2 separate regions of the Homo sapiens genome follow, and region 1 is linked to region 2. The links come from fine-mapping of genetic effects on gene expression. Tissue or cell type: atrial appendage. Region 2 holds a variant in brackets; the other region holds the start of a gene. All regions are shown on one strand. Distances are from middle to middle.

Region 1 (2,615 bases), 110 kb before region 2:
GCGAAACCCCTGTCTGTACTAAAAATATAAAAAATTAGCCGGTGTGGTGGTGGCGTGAGCCTGTAGTTCCAGCTATGCAGGAGGTTGTGGTGGGAGCATCACCTGAGCCCCCGAAGTTGAGGCTGCAGTGAGCCCTGATTGCAGCACGGCACTCCAGCCTCAGCGACAGGAGTGAGACCCTGCCTCAAAAGAAAAAAGAAAAGCAAGTTATTTCTTCCTGGCAAAGTGTGTTGAGGCACTTTTGGGAACCTGTCGTATTTGGCAGAGTCCTAATATGAGGTCTAGAGCTCATTATGCCAGGATTTGGAGCCAGAACTCCTGGCTTAGTATGATTATGGGTTCAATTTTTGAGACACCAATAGCTCAACCTACCTGCCTGATTTCTGTCTACAGTGTTTTCAAACCGCCCTCTTATTTGCCACTGCTTGGGCTTTACACTGCTGATTAGAGCCATGCTCTCGATACCGTCTCTGTATTTGTTCACATGGCTCTTTCCTGAGAGCCCACATGGGCCAGATAGATCCTGCCCTGGCCAGTGAGGGGGACACACCCCAGGCAGGTGGCCATGTCTCTCTTCTGACCCTCCCTTCCCTTGCACACGTGGCTGCCTTCCCGTGCATCCTTTGTTGATTTCTTCCCGCGGCTCCTTCTTTTGGGGAGTTTGCTAGGGCTCTGTTCTCCACCCTCACTCTTCTAGAGCTCGGCCGGGACCACCTCAGCCTGTATCTTTGGTCCATGTGATCGCCTGGACCTCCTGTCCGCACCTGTTTGTGTCCAGCTGTGAGTCTGACACCGCCGCCTGAGACACCGGTTTAGGAAGGAAGATGAATTCAGTTATGATCCGGCTGCAAAGAACTTCTCCCAGATCCTCACCTCAGCCATCAGGGCCGCCTGCCCTCCCCTATAACCCTGGGTGGTCCTCCGTCTGGCGCATTCCCCCGTATCCTGCAGGGGTCTGCCTGGCGTTACTTTCTCCGAGACCTTCCTGACCTTCTTCTTGCCCCTCTCCCCCCATATTAGGTGCAAGGATGTCCTGGTACGTCTGACCCACGAACGCAAATCCCTTCTCTGGTTTGCCTTCCATCTCCTCACCCTGAGGTGCTCAAGAAACGTATGTAGGGTCCCGGTCCGCTCAAAGCGCACAAACCTCCGAGGCAGCAGCCTCTAAATAGAGAGGCCAGGGAGTGACCGGAGGGCATTTTCTTGTACACACAGGGGTTGCCACGGAACTCCCGTGAAACAGACTCCCGGGCCAGCCGCGGCGCTCAAGCTTCCCCTGAGGTCCTAGAAAGGCTCACCCTGGGCTCGCTCGGGGCGGCGGCTCCCGGCAGGCCTAGCGCGGCGGGGCGGGGCCGGCGGCACGAGGACCAGGCAGCGCGGGCAGCACGCGCCCGGGCCGGAGCCCGCCCACAAGGGCGCGCGGCGCGTTCTGATTGGAAGGCCTCGAGCGGGGGCGGGGCTTCCAGGGTGCGCTTCCGCCGTCGCCTGTTCCCGCCGCGGAGACCCGGCAGTTGGGGGATGCCGACGCCTGGGCCTTGAGGATGCTGCGGAAGCTCACCATCGAGCAGATCAACGACTGGTTCACCATCGGCAAGACGGTGACCAATGTGGAGCTGCTGGGCGCGCCGCCCGCCTTCCCGGCAGGGGCGGCCAGGGAGGAGGTGCAGCGCCAGGACGTGGCCCCCGGCGCTGGTCCCGCGGCCCAGGCTCCGGCTCTGGCCCAAGCTCCGGCCCGGCCGGCCGCTGCGTTCGAAAGGTAGGACGCGGGCGGGGCGGAGGCGGCTGGAGGGCGGCCGGGCGAGGCCTGGCGACGAGGGCACGGGCCATCCAGATCCTTCTCGCGAGCCCGTGCCCTCTCGCGGGGCTCCAGGGACCCCTGACCGTCCAGGGCGAGTGGTCACTACACAACCCGACGCGCGGCCCAGAGCGGTGCCTGTAAGGAAGCTGAGCTAGAGGTTTTTTTTTTTTTTTTTTTTTCAGTTCTTAATGTTTAACAGACTAGTTTTTGAGGCACTCAGGTTTTCAGGATAACGGAGCGGAGGGCAGAGGTCCCATAGGCCCCTTCCCTCCCAGAGTTTCCCCTGTGAGCATCTGCGTAAGGTGTGGGTATTTGTGACAGTCGGCGAACCTGCATCGCTGCGTCTTCGTCACCCGGAGGCCATCGTTACAGGAGGGTTCACGCCTCGTACTGGACGTTCTGTGGGTTTGGACAAACGCCTAACGTCACGCATTACAGAGTTCACTGACCTACAGATCTTCTCGGCCCCACTGTTCCTGCCTCCCTTTCCCTACACCACGTGGAAACCACTGATTTTTTTACTGTCTCCATAATTTTGCTTTTCCATACTGTCATCTAGTTGGAATCACACAGTATGTGTAGCCTTTTTGATGGGTTTCTGTCACTTAGTATTAGTATGCATTTGGGGGTTCCTCCATGCCTTTCCATGGTTTGATAGCTTCTTTCCTTTTAGCACTGATTAATATTCCACTGTCTGGATGTACCACAGTTTATCTCCATTCACCTACTGAAGGAGAGCTTGGTTGCTTCCAAGTTCTCCCCCCACCCCCCGAGATGGAGTCTCACTTTGTTACCCAGGCTGGAGTGGAGTGGCGCC
Region 2 (2,760 bases):
GAAAAGCTACTCCTGTGTGCTATATGGAGAAAAGATTGGAAGAGGCAGGAGTAAGAGATGGGGAATTGGTCGGAAAGTTGTTACCAAGTCCAGGTGAGAAATGGCAGTGGCTTGGACCAGGCTGTTGGCCGCAGCCATGGAGAGGCTATTAGGGAGTGATAAAGGTGACAGGACGTGCCAGTGGTCAGAGGAGGGTGGTGATAAAACTGGGATACAAAACTTTGTAAGTGTGCACCATTGTTTTAGGATGAGAAGGTGGAACATTTTTTTAGGCTTTTACTAAGTGCTAGACTTGTTTGACAGGTCATAAATATGTACATAGCCCTTTCTCCAGAAATCTCCCTAATAAGAATTTAACCCATGGAAAGAATTCGAAGGCAAGGGAAAAAAAAACCCATTCATGATAAAATATTCTTTTCATTATCTTATCTACCACATTAGAAACTTAATAAAGTATTAATACAAATTATTAAGTATTAATAAAAATACTGAATTTACTATTCTTATAACTATATTTTATAACTATATTTTGATTGTGAAAACTGGCAGAAAAATGCACAAGTGAAATTAATTGCTGTACTAGGGCTGGCAGAATTTAGGATAATTTTATCGGTCAATTTTTACATGCTAAAACATATACTTTAACAATTCTGAAATAATGGACTCTTCTGAAAACATTCCATTTAGGATTGATCAGAATGGCAAGTACTATACTGGAGTCCTTTGTGGTTTGGGGTGGAATCCAGCTACAGGGGCTTCCATACTGCCCGAGCACGACATGGAGCTTGCGTTTGACGTTCAATTCAGCGTGGAGGATGTCGTCGAGGTAAGGGTAGTGCAGCATCACGGCACCACAACCCTGTCTCTCTCTGGTTTTGCTTACCTGACAGTGAGTGCAGGGTCTGCTGTGGAGCTCGCGGTGCAGACACACACCTCTGGTCCTGGAGATGTGCACGTTCCTTGTCCCTCCTGGAGTCACCCTCCAGGAGGACCGCTCCTTAACTTGCCAGTTTGATGTATCTTTCCTGTGAAAAGTAACTTCCTGATGGTGCTCTCTGAGTCTCTCATTTGGTGTCTCCTGGCATAAGCTTTTCTGGGCAATCAGCTAAACCACGGGGCTGTAGGGCTGCTGTGGGTCTCATTCCAAGTCAGGAAGTGGAACATCCTTGCTAGTTCTTACTGGGAAAGGAGGACACAAGGTCCTGCCCCTCTGCCCTTCTCCCGGCCTGGTGACCATGCTGAGCAGAGGGCTGGGTCAGCGTGAGTGCAGAGCTGAGCTGCTTGCAGCATTGTCTGGGCACCGCACTAGCTCTGGGGTGAGGTGGCAAGGCAGACAGGGAAACTGTGTAGCAAGTACACAAAGTATTTGTATGTCATTTGAATCTAATAATAGAAATGTGGGCTCGTATTTGTGTACATTAAAAAAGATCTTTCATC[G/A]TTATAGTAATTTATTTTTATTGCATTTTACAAAGTGGGAAGACCAAAACTGATCCTTTACCACAAATAGTTTGAGAAATGCTACTTTCTAAGTACTCAGTCGCCTTTCTTTCTTAGAAGTTCCATGAGACGGGTGAGGTTAACATAACCACACTGAAGGGCCGGGGGAAAGGAGGAGCTGCAGAGACAGCTGCCGATGCTCCGGGGGCAGGTATCAGTGTTGTCTCTGCAACTGTTAAGTCATAATTGCCTGGTCACAAGAAGGGGCTTATGGGCTTGAAAATACTCCTTAAGCCATAGACCTAATGGGAAAATGTAAAACTATTAAAGTGCTACAAGCAAATTCAGGAAATCTGTGTGACTTTGGGTGTGGCATGAGTTTATAAATACAACACCCAAAGCACAATCTGTGAAGGGGAAATTGATACGTTTGAATTTATCAAAATTAAAAACTTTTGTTCCGCAAAAGACCCTCTTCAGAGGAAGAAAAGACAAAGTGCACACCAGGAGAAAATAGTTACAGGTTACATATCTGATGAAGGACTTGTATCCACAATATGTAAGGCACTCTTAAAACTCAATTATAAGAAAACAAGCAACAGAATTAAAATACGGATGACAGTAAACCCATGAAAAGATGCTCAGCATCATATGTCATTAGGAAAATGCAAATTGAGACTTCCATGAGATAGCACCACCTACTTACTGGAATGGCTGAAATCCAAAACCTGACAGTAACCAGCAATGGCAAGGAGGTGGTGCAGGGGGACCGGGGACCTTTTGTTCATTGCTGGTGGGAATGCAGATTAGTACCACTATTTTAGAAGACAGTTTCATATGAAGTTAAGCCTGCATCTACCATATGACCCAGGAATCCCATCTGTAGGTATTTATTCAAGAGATTTGAAAACTAGCATCCACATAGAGCTTGTATGTGAATATCAATTGCAGCTTGAGTCATAATTGCTAAAAACTGGGAGCAGTCAAGATGCCTTCAGCAGGCGAGTGGATAAACCATACTGATGACAGAGAATACTAACTCTGAATGCTATGAATTCTCTAACGGGATGAAATTCAGTTACGACGGAGCCTTATGAGTGTTTATGTTGCTGTTCATTTACAGGTTAATATTCTCAGGGCTGCTATTAACAAGCTAGTCTGTGATGGACCAAATGGATGCAAGTGTCTTGGGCCAGAGAGAGTTGCGCAGCTTCAAGACATTGCCCGTCAGAAGCTTTTAGGGTAAGCTGTGTGATGACGCGGGCTTCTTTTCTTCCCAGTCAACTTTCTCAGCTGCCTTGATCATGGCTGTTTTGAATTGTG

What was found. PIP is the estimated chance that this variant, and not a neighbour inherited with it, causes the effect.
Region 1: it holds the start of TDRD9, and the variant in region 2 is fine-mapped to the expression of TDRD9 in atrial appendage (GTEx, PIP above 0.99).

Annotation. Positions count from the first base shown.
Region 1 is chr14:103,926,969-103,929,583 of GRCh38, forward strand. TDRD9 (tudor domain containing 9) reads left to right here and starts at 1,488. Exons shown (of 36, transcript NM_153046.3): 1 at 1,488-1,756. The coding sequence starts at 1,542.
Region 2 is chr14:104,039,509-104,042,268 of GRCh38, forward strand. TDRD9 (tudor domain containing 9) reads left to right here. Exons shown (of 36, transcript NM_153046.3): 33 at 688-826; 34 at 2,561-2,679. Among named protein-coding and RNA genes, the nearest start is that of ASPG, 45 kb to the right of the region's middle. The variant G/A (reference allele first, on the strand shown) is at 1,438.